Linked DNA regions of Homo sapiens: region 1 is linked to region 2. The links come from fine-mapping of genetic effects on gene expression. Tissue or cell type: nasal epithelium. Region 2 holds a variant in brackets; the other region holds the start of a gene. All regions are shown on one strand. Distances are from middle to middle.

Region 1 (8,111 bases), 170 kb before region 2:
TGCCACCACACCCTGATAATTTTTTGTTTGTTTGTTTGTTCATGAGACGGAGTTTCACTCTTGTTACCCAGGCTGGAGTGCAATGGCATGATCTTGGCTCACTGTAACCTCCACCTCACAGCTTCAAGCGATTCTCCTGCCTCAGCCTCCAGAGTAGCTGGAATTACAGGCACCTGCCAGCACTCCTGTCTAATTTGTTGTATTTTTAGTAGAGACAGGGTTTTACTGCGTTGGCCGGGCTGGTCTCAAACTCCTGACCTCATGATCCATCTGCCTCGGCCTCCCAAAGTGCTGGGATTACAGGCATGAGCCACCGCCCCCAGCCCTAATTTTTGTATTTTTTAGTAAGACAGGGTTTTGCCATGTTGGTCGCTGGACCTCAGGTGATCCGCCCGCCTGGGCCTCCCAAAGTGCTGGGATTACAGATGTGAGCCACTGCCCCCGGCCAAGAATAGGGATTTAGATTGGTCTATTTGGGGTGGGGGAGGAGGGTAATGACAAGGATTTCAAGAAATCAAGAGTGGGCAAGAGGCATGATTATTTCCCAATCTGAGCTAGCTTCCTATATGCTCCTTTTCTTTCCAAGAATCTCAGAATTTGGCCTGCTTGGGTTTCTTTAAACTATCACCACCCACTGACTCTTATAAAATTCCCCCTCTTCTTGAGATCGCGCCACTGCTCTCCAGCCTGGGTGACAGAGCAAGACTCTGTCCCAAAAAAAAAAAAAAAAATTCCCCCTCCTCTTGAAGACTAGCATTGAAAACCAAAACTTATCTTTGGCCTGCCAATCTCAGAAACCACATGGCACGTCGGTTATGTAAGACATCTTGCTGCTAGTAATAATGCAAACTATACAATAAAAGACTTCCTTTATTTTATTTTTAATTTTTTATTTGGTTTTTAAGAGACGTGATCTATTTTACCTAGACTGGACTTGAACTCCTGGACTCTCAACGATTCTCCTGCCTTAGCCTCTTGGGTAACTGGGACTACTGGCGCTGCATACAGCAAGACTTTTTTTTTTTTTTTTTTGTAGAGCCATCCTTTCTCTCTTATTTTTTTTTAGAAACTAAAAAAGAAAACCACCAAAGCACACAGTCAGTGAGCATTCAAAGGATGGAAGGATATAATTCAATTATAGTTGAGGGGATAATTAGACTCAATAATTCTCCGGGATTTTTTTTTTTTTTTTAAGACAAGGTCTATCGCCCAGGTTAGAGTACAGTGGCGTGATCATAGTTCACTGCAACCTGGAACTCCTGAGTTCAGGGATCTTCCTGCCTCAGCCTCCCAAAGCGCTGGGATTGCAGGTGTTAACCACTGCACCAGGCCCTTCTCCTGGATTTCTTGGATTAGCAGGTTGATTTGTGAGCCTTTGGTAGAAGGAATGTGGAGACTTTGAGCAAGTGGAATGGAGGCATGCAGTGCTGCCTTCTAGACCCGCAGTAAGGAAACAGGAACAGGAGGATGAGGGGCAAACAACCTAAAATTTACTTTCACCTCCTCCACCTTCTTATTAATCTTCCCATAAGGTCAGAGTCATGTCAAAGTTGCACAATAAATCAGGAATAGATTTAGGATTCGACAGAACCTTAGTAGGGGAATTTTATGACATTAGGAGATGATCTGTGAGGGGCAGCATCTTGGAGGCAAAGGGAATTTTGTTTGTTTGTTGTTTTTTGTTTTGTTTTGTTTTGTTTTTGGGATGGAGTCTTGCTCTGTCGCCCAGGCTGGAGTGCAGTGGCGCAAGCTCTGCTCACTGCAAGCTCCGCCTCCCGGGTTCACGCCATTCTCCTGCCTCAGCCTCCTAAATAGCTGGGACTATAGGTGCCCGCCACCACGCCTGGCTAATTTTTTTTTCTGTATTTTCTGTAGAGACGGGGTTTCACTGTGTTAGCCAGGACGGTCTTGATCTCCTGACCTCATGATCTGCCCGCCTTGGCCTCCCAAAGTGCTGGGATTACAGGCGTGAGCCACCGCGCCCCGCATCTTGTTGCTCAGTTTTATTCTAATACGTGGAATGCTCTTCAAAACTAACAAATGGGCAAAATAGAATGAGTAAACATGTTAAATTATGAACCAGCCACAGAATTTATGTGGGAGCCACACAAGTACAACAATCCTGGTTCTGGGTCTAAAATATAAAATTAAAAAGCACTTGAAGTATAATTTGAAATAATAAAAGACAAACTGTAGGTATGTTAGACCTCAAAAAATAAGTATATTTTAAAAAAAGACAAATTAAGTTTTGTCCCTTATCTTATGAAAAGCCTGGAATACATAATGAAATTCATTTTTTAAATAAGTTTCGGGTTTTTTTTTTTTCCCCACATCAGATGGGTAATGTGCAGATGATGGCGCAACAAGGTTTGAGGGAGGGACGTCTCACACAAGTGTGAACACACAATCATCCCACTTATGAACTAAAAAGTATCTCGTAAGTAGCTTTTTATTGTCAGACAAAGTAAATGTACATTGCAAAAAATGTAGTAAAAATAAAAGGAAATAAATTTACTAGTACTCGTCCCACCCTAGTATTATTATAGTTTGAAGTCTTCATACTACAACAAAAGGGGGAGTTTCTTTATTTTCTTTTCTCTCTTTTTTTTTTTTTTTTTTGACTTTCTCTCTTGTTGCCCAAGCTGGAGTGCAATGACACGATCTTGGCTCACTGCAACCTCCGTCTCCCAGGTTCAAGCGATTCTCTCGCCTCAGCTTCCCAGTAGCTGGGATTACAGGCGCGTGCCACCATGCCAGGCTAATTTTTTAATTTTTAGTAGAAACTGGGTTTCACAATGTTAGCCAGGCTGGTCTCGAACTCCCAACCTCAGGTGATCCCCCCGCCCCCACCTCGACTTACCAAAGTGCTGGGATTACAGGCGTGAGCCATCGTGCCTGGCCTATTGGAGAGTTTTGAGGGTTGTTTGTTTTGAGACGGGATCTCACTCTGTCACCCAGGCTGGAGTGCAACGGGGGTCTTGGCTCACTACAACCTCTGCCTCCCGGGTTCAAGTGATTCTCCTGCCTCAACCTCCCGAGTAGCTGGGATTACAGGTGGGAGCCACCACGCCCGGCTAATTTTTGTATTTTTAGTAGAGAAGGGGGTTTCACTATGTTGGCCAGGCTGGTCTCGAACTCCTGACCTCGTGATTCACCCTCCTCGGCCTCCCAAAGTTCTGGAATAATAGGCGTGAGTCACCGTGCCTGGCCTATTTGGAGAGTTTCTATACACATTCATGCAACATTTACAGAACACCCTGAATGGGTGGGACTGGTGCGGTGCTAGACATTAAGGACAGACTTGTGTCCTGTTCCTCTGTATTCCAAAGAGGCTTACGGTATACAGGGGGAGACATATAAACAGATGTTTGTCAATTATAATACAAAACTTGTGTCAAAATACAATGAGAGTTGAATCTCAGTTTGTAGCTGTGACTCTGATCATTCTGGAATTCCTAGGTTCTTTTCCAAAACAAACGCTCAATGCAGGGCTGGTGTGTTGTTATTACCAGCACTATTTCAAATCACGTGTTAAGATAACTTAGGCTAAGAAAATACCACTTTCCTACTTGTCAAGTGTTCGAGCCTTTCAAAAACCATCCCGTTTAGGGACTTGGAAACACGCGCAAGGCTGGAGAAACCATTAAGCTGCTAACGTAGACGTTTCAAGGGTCACATTTACTCAAGAGACACTCAGGTCGCCCGGGGGAGCGGTGCATATTGGGACTTGTAGTCCTACCAGAACCGAGGAAACTGCAACTCCCTTTAGGATGCACTTCTCCCCTTTAAATTTTCTGGCCCAACAGTTAGATGACGCCCTAACCTAAAGCACAACTTACCACATCTCACTCATTCTGGGTTCATCAGGCTTCTGCCAGGCTTATCAGGTTCAAGCTCAAACGCACGGCGTTCTCCTGTAGAAGCCTCAAAGAGATTGGCTTATTCTCGGTGGTGGGCGGAGCCCTAGGTGGACCGGGGGTCGGGATTGGCCAGTTTCTGACTAGAAGAGGCGTTTTTATGTTCACTTGCTGATACGCACGCTGTGGTAAAAAAGTGAATTCTTTACCACAGTAGCAGCTGCCCCGAGCGAAGTCTCGCGATATTTCGGCCGCAGGGATCCAGAGGCGCGTAGTGAGTGGCGGAGGACTGTGGGGGTGGCGGGCACCGGAGCCGGGAAGGGACAGGTCAGGCGGGGAGTGCGAGCGCGTACTGCTTGCGCCACTCGGGCTGGGTCAGGAGCGGCTGCCCGAGGTCCAGAGGAAGTGTGTGGACAGCGCGGCCTTCCTGGCCGGTGAGTCGGCCCCGGGTCGTGGCCGGTGAGGGGACCCTGAGCTTCACCTGGGCTAGCGCGGGGAGTGACAGGTGCGCGAAGGAGCGCGGCGCTCCGCCCTCTCGCCGACCCGCCCCCTCCGGGCCTCGCCCTCCGGGGCTCGGGATGAGTCGCGGGCCCCAGCTGAGCGGCTCCGGCTCCAGGCGCCTGTCGCTGCTTCTGCCGTCGCCACCGAAGAGCGGCCGCCGCCCCTGAGGGAAGGAGGGAGGGAAGCAGCCGCTGACCCGTGGCATGAGCTGGATGCGGTGTCCGTTGCAGGACTAGGGCGCCGACATGAACCTGCACCAGGTGCTGACCGGGGCTGTGAACCCTGGCGACCACTGCTTCTCCGTGGGCAGCATTGGCGACCAGCGCTTCACGGTGAGTGAGGGAGGCCCTCGCGTCGCCCGTGGCCCGGCCTTTGCCCGTCATTCTGGGCCGAGCTTGGCCCAGAACGACGGGCAGAGGCGCGAGGTCTTGTCTCCCCAGGGGGGTCCTTACCACCCAGAACCCAGCAGACCTGGCCCTTGAGAACTAAGGAAGCAAAACCATGTCGGTCAGTGAGGTACTGTATGGAGCCTGAACTCAAGTTAGAATATTTTGTAGGATTTTTAAAGTTTTTGGTCTGTCTGCCTTGGGCCAGGGTGCTTTGCCAAAGTCGTTTGTTCAAAAATCTTTGTTGAGTAACGAGTTGGGGGCTTTTTTATACCATTCTATAGGTTCAAATTGTCAAATTTAGGAATAGTGGAGATTGGTTTCATTTTGTATTCTAAGTTAAGGTCAAGTATCTTTGTAGTTAAAAAGTGGGTGTCTCAAAACAATTACCAATTGTTTGCCATCAACAACTAGCCTTGAGAACAGTGTTTTTCATTTATTTTCTTTTCTAATTCCCTGAGAAATAACTTCGGAAAGAAAAAAAAGCCTTTTCATTTTTAAAAATATTTCTTGGATATTTTACAATAACCTGGTAATCCCAGGTTAAGGTTGCTTAACTTGCTTTTCATTGGTCACATATTGACAAGAAGAGGGCACCAAATTTCGGGCTACTTGTCAGTATAGTGGCATTTTTCTACCTTAACTATAGGTTTTTTTTTAATAACAATTTCAAAATATAAGTCAGTAATTGCACATGATACTTTTATCTACATAAATTTATAATGCTAATGATTTTTGCTACAATTTGTGTAGATACCTCTTTAGTTGTGATTAAAAGTAAAACTTGTCACTGCCTGGGAATACTAAGTGCTGTAGGCTTTTTTCTTTAAAAAAAATAAAAGTAAAACTTAATTTTGTATAAGTGACACAAAGTAAACAACGTAACCAATGCCCCAGGTTTAGGAGTGTTAAATTTCTAATCTTTTTCTCTGCTTTTAATTTTTCTGTGGTCTTTGTTGGTCAGAATAAATAATACTCAGCATTTAAAATGGTGGAGGCATTTAATGCCTGAATTGTACTTTTAGAATTGTGCCAAGAAGCATTTTGTTTTCAAATAGAGACTGTACCTCCCCTTTAGATTGACTCATACACATCTTAATTATCGGGATTCCAATTCTAAATGTTTGCCCAGCCTGAATACTTGGGAAAAGAGTGAGCTCTGAGGGTCCCAGTGAGCAACTATAGTTTCCTTACACCTGGGCATTGCTCTCTGCTCTTGCTGCTTGAGAGGAAAGTAAACATCATCCTTAGAAGGTTTTCCTAGTGGGAAATTATAGGATAATATTGTTGCATTCTCTGTCATTTCCTAAATTTATATGAGTGCTTTCTCCAGTGTAAATTCTAAGAACTTTTGCTTTTTAAAAACTTTTGAAATGAGGTCTCCCTCTGTCACCTAGGCTGGAGTGCAGTGGCGGGATCACAGCTCACTGCAGCCTCGACCTCCCCGGCACAAGCCGTCCTTCCACCTTAGGCTCCTGAGGAGCTAGGACTACAGATTCTAATCACCACGGCTGGCTAAGTTTTCTATTTTTTGTAGAGAGGGGTCTCCTTATGTTGCCCAGGCTGGTCTTGACTTCCTGGGCTCAAGTGATCCTCCCACTTCAGCCTCCCAAAATGCTAGGATTAGAGGCGTGAGCCACCATGCCCAGCCCTAAGAATTTTTTCTAAGAAGGCATTCACAATCTATGTAAGCAGTGGTGTGAACTTCAAAGCATATGCAGTATGATGGCCTATTTATATACCTGGATGCATTCCTCTATAAAACCTTGGTGAATGTCTGTGTATTGTTTTTAAGGAGAGATCAGTTAATGTGCCGAGGAGGATTAGATAGATGGTCATCCTGTACCATCATGTAGCTTGTTGCTCAGTTCTGCTGAATTTTAAAGTTCATTTCCATTGAGTAGGATTTAATCTCCCACCAAGCCTACTGCAGATTTCTTCCAGGTCTCTGGAAGCATTCAGTAAATAAACTAAAAATAAATTTTTAAGTATAAAGAGAGTTCAGCTCTCTTTAGTTTTGATGGAATTTTAAGGATTTAACAGTCATGGTTTTCCTTTGCAGCCTGTTCATCCTTGACTCTTTAAGTTGCTTACGCTCATTATCCTGGACACTTATATACACCTTAAATTTTTCTCTCTTGAAATCGCCCTTTTTTCTTCTCTCATGTTAAAAGGCAGAATCTATTGTTTACTTCTTGAGTTGTTTTGTGTTGTTTTTTTTTTTTGAGACGGAGTTTCGCTGTCGTTGCCCAGGCTGGAGTGCAATGGCGCGATCTTAGCTCACTGCAACTTCCGCCTCCTGTGTTCAAGAGATTCTCCTGCCTCAGCCTCCTGAGAAGCTGGGATTACAGGCATGTGCCACCATGCCCTGCTAATTTTGTATTTTTTAGTAGAGGTGGGGTTTCACCATGTTGGTCAGGCTGGTCTGGAGCTCCTGACCTCAGGTGATCCACCAGTCTTGGCCTCCCAAAGTGCTGGGATTACAGGCGGGAGCCACTGCACCCAGCCTTGAGTGTTGTTTTTAACCTTTTTTGATTTTGACTTTTCTTTGATAGGAAAATAGTAAACATTAATGGTAGATGGTATGTGAAGACTAAAATATCCCTCAGTTGCATTTTACTTGAAGTGGAGCATGACATCTTCCTCTTGCAGTTCCCCTTGAAAAATTCTTTTATTCCTTTTGGTACTTTGTGTTTTCTTTTAGGACAGTCCTGCTTTTGTAATTCCTCCCTTTGCATGTTTGCAGATAACTTACGTGTTCTTGGTTTGAAAGATTACAAGATGTGAGATCTTGTTTTACTCATAAAGCCTGACAGGTTTTAAATGGAAATGAAACTGAATGCCACTTCTCCTATTTTCTAGATTTGAAAATATGAAATTACCAACGCAGATTAGTCTATTTAAGTATTAGATACTTTTTTACTACCTCATCAGGCATCAAGCTGTTTTGACTTTGCTCTTAGTAAGAAAACCTCTTGTGGGCAATGACCATCTCTCCTGTGCTTTCAGAGCACTTTCTTTGCATCTTTATTCTATCATTAACCAGTCTTGCCTTGTGGATTGTATGTGTATGACTTCCCACGCTTCATTGTGAGCACCTAGAACAGTGATTGAAAGAGTGTTTAAACCTAACAGTAAGGTCATTACTTGGAGTTGATTTCCAATGTGGTCCCTTTTAATTAGCTGTTTATCCATTAGCAAGTTATACTCTTGGAATTTCTTTTTTTCTCTTCTGTAAAATGGGACTAAAAGAGTATTATTCATAGAGTTGCTACATGAAAAAGTGCTAAGCTGTAAGTCCATGGTTTAGCACATGTAAAACTCTCAAAAATGTCAGTTTTCATAAAATTAAGGTTATATTTATTGT
Region 2 (8,111 bases):
GCTAGCATTAAACAAGGACAGTAGGAAAACAGAAAAGAGTTATTGGAAATTAAAAATACGATTCCCAAAAATGTGGTCAGTGGGGGAACTACTTATTAGAAAAGCTGAACAGCAGAATGGAAATAGTTGAAAATCAGGTTTGTTGCTGGGAAGCACAAATTAAGAAACTATCCCATAATGATGATAATTTAGGAAATATTTCAGAAGAAAAAAATGGAGGAAAAACAATATTCAAAGGAATAATAGATACTTCCCCAAAGCAAAGAATAGAATATTGGAAGAGAAAGGGCCTACCAAGTATTGAGAAGCAACACGTACCTGCACACATCCTGTTTGTGTAACTTTTGGTTTTTAGAGTTAAAGAGAGAATCCTATAAGGTTCTAAAAAGGAGTGAGAATGAAAAAGGTTATTTACAACCCACATCCCACCCTGCCACTAAATGTCGTTGGCCTGTCACAAATAGATAGGAGAACAATATCCACAGAATTCTGATGGACAAGGAATGGGAACTGAGTCGATGTGCATCCAAACTATCATTCAAATTTGCTAGCAAAATAAACATATTTTTAGGTATACAGAGACTTAACACATTCCATGTGTATACCCTTTCTGAAGAACATACCTAGATCTACTCCAGAAAATGTAAGATAAACTAGAAAAAGGAATAGACCTGGGAAAATATTATTAACAAATATAAAAACAGTAGGTTAATATTCATAATATTAGTCATATCAGTTAAATTTTTTAAAAGACAAATAGTAGAGAAATAGATAAAACATCTTAACAGTTTACCAAGAAACTTTGCCTGGCCAGTAGCCTTCTACCTTCACTAATAATTGAAGAAGTGCAAATAAATTGAGACTTATTCTTGTCTGCATAAAATTAACAAGTATTTTAGATTTTAAAAATACCCCATGTTAACTAAAGTGTAAGAAAAATGGCTGTATCAATTTATATTACCACATAGGATTTAATTTTGGCATAGTCTATTAATTTTAAGTGATGCTCTTTAACAAAACTTTCCCATTTCTAGATGTCTATCCTACATAATTATGCAAAGGTATATGTATATATAGGAATGTTCAAAGCAGCCCTTTTTATATTACAGAAAATTGAAAACGGTATGGGGAAAGTTTTAAATTGTAATACCACTGTACAGTGTAATACTACACACAGCACAAGAATGATCTAAATTTATGTGTAATTACCTGGGAAAGATAGCTATAATAAATAAAAAATGTAATTGTGTAGTGGTATTATTATGATCCCAATTTTTTAAATGCTATATTGTGAATTTTTGAATACTCATAGAAACAAATCTGAAAGGAAGCACATCAAATTGTTAATAGATGTTAGATCTAGAGGCAGAGGAGGGTGGGAGTACAAAGCAGACATTTATTTTATATACTTTATAATAAGCTGCGTTATTTTTATAATCAAAGGGAAAAAATTTAGCTGTCTTACTCATCCTTCAAGATCTGTATCAAGAATACCTCCCTTAGTGGATTATTTTGACATCTTACCAGTCAGACTTGCCCTGAGCTCCCATAGCGGAATTATTTTACTTTGATAATCCTTATATCATTTTACTTTGTACTCTTGTTCATGTGTTTTCCTTATTGTTTGTTTCTGAAAATCCTTATTTTATCTTTCTGGAAATGAACAGTTTTCTTTCTTATATATGATAAAGTTCTGTCACATAGCATAATCTGTTAATCCAGTATCCTGTTTTTGTAATACTTACAGAGAATATATAGACTATGCTAGAGGCTACTGTAATAAAATGGGTGTCTGATGTTTGTTCTCTTTATGTTCACCCTGGGATTTTTAAAGTAGTAGCTGAATGTTTTTCTGAAATAGATCCATGTATAGGTGAAGTGAAAAATCACATGACATACAGTCAAATGTTTACGAGTCAAAATATGGGTGTCACACTGAGGGTAAGGATAAATATATGCTTTTATATTTATATTAAATACTTTTAAATATTTTCTTTCTCTAAGTTTGGAATAGTTGATGCTGATGGATATTTAAGTTTGTATCAAACAAACTGGAAATGTTGTCCAGTTACTGGAAGCATGCCTAAGCCATACCTGGTAAGCCAAGAATTTCTACCTTTAAATAAAATTTGAATTTTCATTTTAAATAAACCAAGAATACGTATTTGAGACAAGAAATATAGAACTAATAAATAAAATATAGTCCTGTGTTCTCAGTCACTTTGCTGTAAGATTCTGTCCTTGTGTTATGTGAAAATTACTCTGTGAAGCATAAAATTCCTTAGTCTCTGATAATTTGGGAAGTTGACATGTATAGAAGCAACATGATACCCCCAGATACCTATACATCTTGTGGATTACTAGAGCCCTTTTCTAACCTCACTAAACTGGTTATTATATTATGCCTAAATAGAATGATTACCAGACCAATGCGTCTGGTTATTTTTCTGCAATTATCTCTTATGAACAAACAAAGTGAAAAGGACATCCTATAGCTGGTACTGTTATTTTCTTGTTCATCTCTTTTAATTTAGGATTATGCAGGCTTTTATGAACTTTCTGTGGCTTCATAGAATACTGAATTTATATTTCATATCTTCAGTGAAGCTCTTTATAGGACTAAGCAATTCCTATCAGAAAAAAAGTTAAGAATATAGGTTAAGATTCTGGTAATTTGCCCAAGGTTAATTGCTAGAATACAGTACTGATCTAAGTAAAAGCAAGCAAGCATGGGAGGATTGATTAGGGTACCTTGAAAGAATATTAACTGTTTCTCATATTTTTATTAAGCTTAAAGATTTAGATGTATAAGTTTGTTCTCTAAGGGACTGTTTTTTTTAACTTTTAAAAAAATGAATTGGTTTAAATTATGAATAACTGGCTTTTGGAGATTAAGAGGATTTTGTCTGTTTTAAGGACACATCATCTAGCCCAGCTCCAGTAGTGTTCCAGGGGAAATGGGGAGTTGGCTCAAAGGAATAATCTTTGGTGTGGTGATTTTGGGATACTTAAAAAAAATCATTTTTTATTAAAGAGAAATATGTAAAACATAATTTTGAAGCTTTTATAAATGAAGAAACCTCATAATTAAGTGTACTGTTTGGTAGAATATTGAAAAATGCTATATGTTTTCTAATTTTGATGACTATTAGTAATTTTTTTCATGTACTTGAATTTTTAAAAGCTTAAATATTTTTGAAAAATATATGTCAATTATTTAACAAAAGTCTGGTATCATCTAAAATTCTAGTTTCTATCTTCTGAAACAGAAATTTTCACTATGCTAGGAGAAGGTCTTTAAGTTTAACCTCATGTTTTCCTTTGAACTTTTGGTTGAACAAAAGCAAAGAGATTCATAACGGGTCATGATATATGCAGCCTACTTAAATAGTTCAGGAAAAGTGTGTGTATGCGTGGGTGTCTACAAATATGAAAGAGAAGTAGAGGCAAAACAAATGTGCCAAAATGTTAAAAAGTTGCTGCATCTGGGTAAAAGGTATATGAAAGTTCTCTGTATTACTTTTACAATTTTTCTAAAGTTCAAAGGAA[A/G]AAAACGATACAGAGGATTTAAGAAAGCCAGAAACTACATGATCACTTTTCGAAGAATACATTTACCTGGTTATGACATTTTTAGTGAGAGGAGTAACACGTATTGTTTGTAACCATTCCAGACTTGGCAGTGTCATAACAAAACAGCCAATGATTTTGTCTTCGTTAGTTCCTCCTCTCTGATAGCTACAGCTGGTCTTTCAACTGACAATAGGTAAGAGATGATAGCTAAAATTGAAGTATGAGAAAGTATAGCTGAACTTTTTTTTATTGTTTCTGTCCTTGTGTTTGACTAAAGTTTACTTATGGCTTTAGATACAGTATTTTTATTCTAAAAACTATTATTTATTGGCCATGTTATTCCAGCCCCACCCCCAAAAGCTGTGGTTGTAAGAAAGTGTCATCTCCTGCCCCAGTATCTGTCTGCCTCTTTTGATTTCTGTTATATAACTGAGTTCTGAGATCAAGGCCCACTGAGTTTGCTTAGCTTATATATTTATCTGTAAGGCCACACTTTGCACTAGAAACAGGATTGTAAGACTATAGATTCTTCAGCTCGTCTTCCGTAGATATTTCTTACGTATGTTGGTCCCCCCACACAGTAGAAACAAGTTTTCTTTGTGCTTAAGAAAATTCAGCATCTCTCCTGTTAATGTATGTCAGTCCAACTGTTAGAGATTCAGTGAATACAAAAAGAAGTTTCCATATTCAGACTTCATATATTATTATTTGTAAACGCATGTTAATCTAAAGTTATTCAAATTTTTAAGCTATAATAGTAGCTTTAAATTTTCTGTAAAAATTGTGGGTCGGGCACAGTGGCTCATGCTTGTAATCCCAGCACTTTGGGAGGCCGAGGTGGGCGGATCACTTGAGGCCAGGAGTTTGAGTCCAGCCTGGGCAACATGGTGAAACCCTATCTCTACTAAAAATACAAAAAATTAGCCAGGCGTGGTGGCAGGTGCCTGTAATCCCAGCTACTCTGGGGGCTGAGGCAGGAGAATCGCTTGAACCTGGGAGGCAGAGGTTGCAGTGAGCCAAGATCACACCATTGCACTCCAGCCTAGGCAACAAGAGTGTAAAACTCCATCTCAAAAAAAAAAAAAAACAAAAAATTGTAGCCAGAGCATGTTGGCTCATGCCTGTAATCCCAGTGCCTTGGCAGGCTGAGGCAGGAGGATCATTTCAGCCCAGGAATTTGAGACCAGCCTGGGCAACATAGGGAGACTCCATCTCTACAAAAAAAAATTTAAAAAATTAGCCAGACATGGTGGCACACATCTGTAGTCCCAGCTACTCGGGACATTGAGGTGGGAAGATTGCTTGAGCCCAGAAGGTCGAGGCTGCAGTGAGCCAAGATTCCACCACTGCATTCTTTTTTTTATATAAAAATTAGTTTCATATAAATTTGTTGGTTACTTGTATTTGTTGCTTTTATAAATTTAAGAACCTTCTGTGACAGCAAGGTTTAAAGGTCACACAGTTATATATGACATATTTTTTATTGTTAGCTTTTGTGTCACTCAGAAGTAATCTTTTTTTTTTTTTCCAGAAACGTATGTTTGTGGGATACTCTTGTAGCACCTGCCAATAGTTTAGTCCATGGTAAGTTTTCAAAGCATTTTATAAATTTTGAAAGTCAGGAAATTCATAAGCTAAATATTATTTATAAGTGGATTTGTTACTGATGACACATATATTTATTAACCCATGAGATTTCTTTTGCCCAGGATGGCAGGATTTGAAAGCAAAAAGATGCAATATACGTAATTAACTCTTCACTATACCTTGATGGGGGACAGTGAGACATCGATAATATAAAAATCATTTGTCTTTACTTTGAATCTGATAGCCACAGGTTATCGTTGTAAACATGATGTAAACTCAATATTATGTCCCCTCTTACCACTCCTATTCAACATTGCACTGGAATTCCTAGCTAATGCAGTAACACAATAATAGGAAATAAAATGTATATAAATGGAAGGGAAGAAATAAAACTGTCTTTATTCACAGAAAACATAATTTTCTATAAAATATCCCAAAGAATCTACAAAATAAATTCACAAGTATAGCAAGGTCCCAGGATACAAGGTCAATATACAGTTGACCCTTGAACAACATAAGGATTGGGATGCTGACCCCTGCACAGATGAAAATCATAATTTTTTATTCCCCCCAGAATTTAACTACTAATAGCCTAGTGTTTACTGGATACCTTATTATTAATATAGTCAATTAACACATATTTTGTATATGTGTTTTATAGGAAGCTAGAAAAAAGAAAATGTTATGAAAATCATGAGTACATACAGTAGTGTACTGTATTTATTGATATTGTAAAGTTTATGTCATCTGTTTACAAGATGAATTTTCTGTCTGAGGCCGGGCGCAGTGGCTCATGCCTGTAATCCCAGCACTTTGGGAGGCCAAGGCGGGTGGATCACGAGGTCAGGAGATCTAGACAATCCTGGCTAACACGGTGAAACCCCATCTCTACTTAAAATACCAAAAAAAAATTAGCCAGGCGTTGTGGTGGATGCCTGTAGTCCTAGCTACTTGGGAGGCTGAGGCAGGAGAATGGTGTGAACCCGGGAGGCGGAGCTTGCAGTGAGCTGAGATGGAGCCACTGCTCTCCAGCCTGGGCGACAGAGCAAGACTCCGTCTCAAAAAAAAAAAAAAAAAAAAGATGAATTATCTGTCTGAAATGGCAGGCAACTACAGCTGCAGACCTCAATTTGTGGTGCATATCAAGCAATTCAACTTTTTTCTTGTAATGTCTTGACTTTGGTCTGCTTTTTGGGAGCACTTCCAGCATTACTAGTGGCATGTTGTATGGTTCCCATGGTGTTATTCAAGGTTTACACTGTTGCACTAAATACAATGAAAAATTCACAAGTGCCACAGGAGATCACTTTTCACTGCAATATACAGTTTACTGGAGAGAAGACCTGCTCACATGGAGATGATGAGCATCACACAGCATTTTAAGTATATACTCGCAACACTTGAGCTAACTGCAATAGCAACAGGAGGTGGCTACTAAATTATAACAGTAGTACAGTATGTACTATAATTAATTTTATGTACTTATGATTTCATACTGTATTTTTGTTTACATTTCTCGACTGTCGATGGCACCACTTACAATCTGTATTTGTGTGCGTATGTTTCAATAAATTTAACTTTTTGTAATTTGTGTATATTTTATGGTAGTAAATGATAAAATAGACTAGTATCTACATATGTTTTATGCATTCATGGCATACTTTTTCTTAATTTTTTGGATATTTCTTGGCTATGTGGGTTGTCTGCAAGTTTTTTCAAATTATCTCAAATCTTTAAAAAATGTTCCAATATATCTATTGAATAAACCACATCTAAGTGGACCCACACATTTCAAACCAGTGTTGTTGAAGGGTCAGCTGTACTAAATTCAGTTGCTTTTTGATGCATCAACAATGAACAATTGCAATTTGAAATTTAAAGAATATTACCATTTACAATAGCACCCAAAACAATGAAATACTGAGACATAAATCTAACAAAATATGTACAGGGTGTGTATGCACAAAACTATAAAAATGATTTAAATCAAAGAAGATCTAAATAAATGAGTGATACTCCACATTCACAGATTAGAAGACACAATATTCTTAAGATGTCAGTTCGTCTTGATTTTATAGATTCAACACAATCCTAATCAAAATTCCAGCATGCTACTTTGCAGATATCAACAAACTGATTCTGAAGTTTATATGGGAAAGCAAAGGAATAGCCAACCAAATACTAGAGAAAAACACACTTGTGGGACTCACATTATACTATCTGATTTCAACACTTATAAGCTACAGTAATCAAGACATTGTGGTATTAGCTTAAGAATATACATATAGATCATAGAACAGAATGGGGAGCCCACTAATAGACTCACATATATAGTAGACTTATGTTTAATATGTCACAGAGGCAATTCAGTGGAGAAACGATAGTCTTTTCAACAAATAATGCCAGAACAATTTAATGTCAACATATAAAAAATTGAACCCAGATACAGACCTCACCTTTCATAAAAATTAACTCAAAATGGACCATAAACCTGCATGTAATATGCAAAATAATAGAACTTCTGGAATGAACTAATTGGATAGAAGTCAGAATAGTGATTGCTTTTGTTGGGGAGGAGAATTGACCATGAAGGGGCATGAAGGAACGTTCTGGGATGATGAAAATATTCTGTACCTTGATCTTAGTGATGGTTACACAGATGTATTCATTTGTCAGTGCTCATCAAGGTATATACTTAAAAAGTGTGCATTTTCCTCTGGGAAGTTATATCTCAAAGTGCTGGTCAAAGTTCCTTCTCTGTAATTAATTTTATTTCAAGTCTTACAATAATAACTAAGTGTTTAGTTTATGCCATGGACTATACATGATCTGCATATATTAAATCCTCAGGCAACCCTATTAGGTAGGTGATAATCTCTTTTACAAATGATGAAACTGAGACTTAGGTAAGTAATTCAGCAGAAGTACACATTTAATCCCACACAGAAACCAGG

The links. PIP is the estimated chance that this variant, and not a neighbour inherited with it, causes the effect.
Region 1: it holds the start of DMXL1, and the variant in region 2 is fine-mapped to the expression of DMXL1 in nasal epithelium (TOPMed, PIP above 0.99). The same link has a PIP of 0.9 or more in lung and monocytes.

Annotation. Positions count from the first base shown.
Region 1 is chr5:119,066,967-119,075,077 of GRCh38, forward strand. It overlaps DMXL1 (Dmx like 1), which reads left to right and starts at 4,121. Exons shown (of 44, transcript NM_001290321.3): 1 at 4,121-4,690. The coding sequence starts at 4,604. It overlaps DMXL1-DT (DMXL1 divergent transcript), which reads right to left and starts at 3,924. Exons shown (of 3, transcript NR_134250.1): 1 at 3,840-3,924. LOC124901209 (small nucleolar RNA U13) reads right to left here and starts at 2,434; the gene lies at 2,331-2,434. RefSeq lists silencers at 3,888-3,967, 4,278-4,557.
Region 2 is chr5:119,235,318-119,243,428 of GRCh38, forward strand. DMXL1 (Dmx like 1) reads left to right here. Exons shown (of 44, transcript NM_001290321.3): 40 at 2,005-2,097; 41 at 3,672-3,763; 42 at 5,102-5,154. Among named protein-coding and RNA genes, the nearest start is that of MIR5706, 85 kb to the left of the region's middle. The variant A/G (reference allele first, on the strand shown) is at 3,550.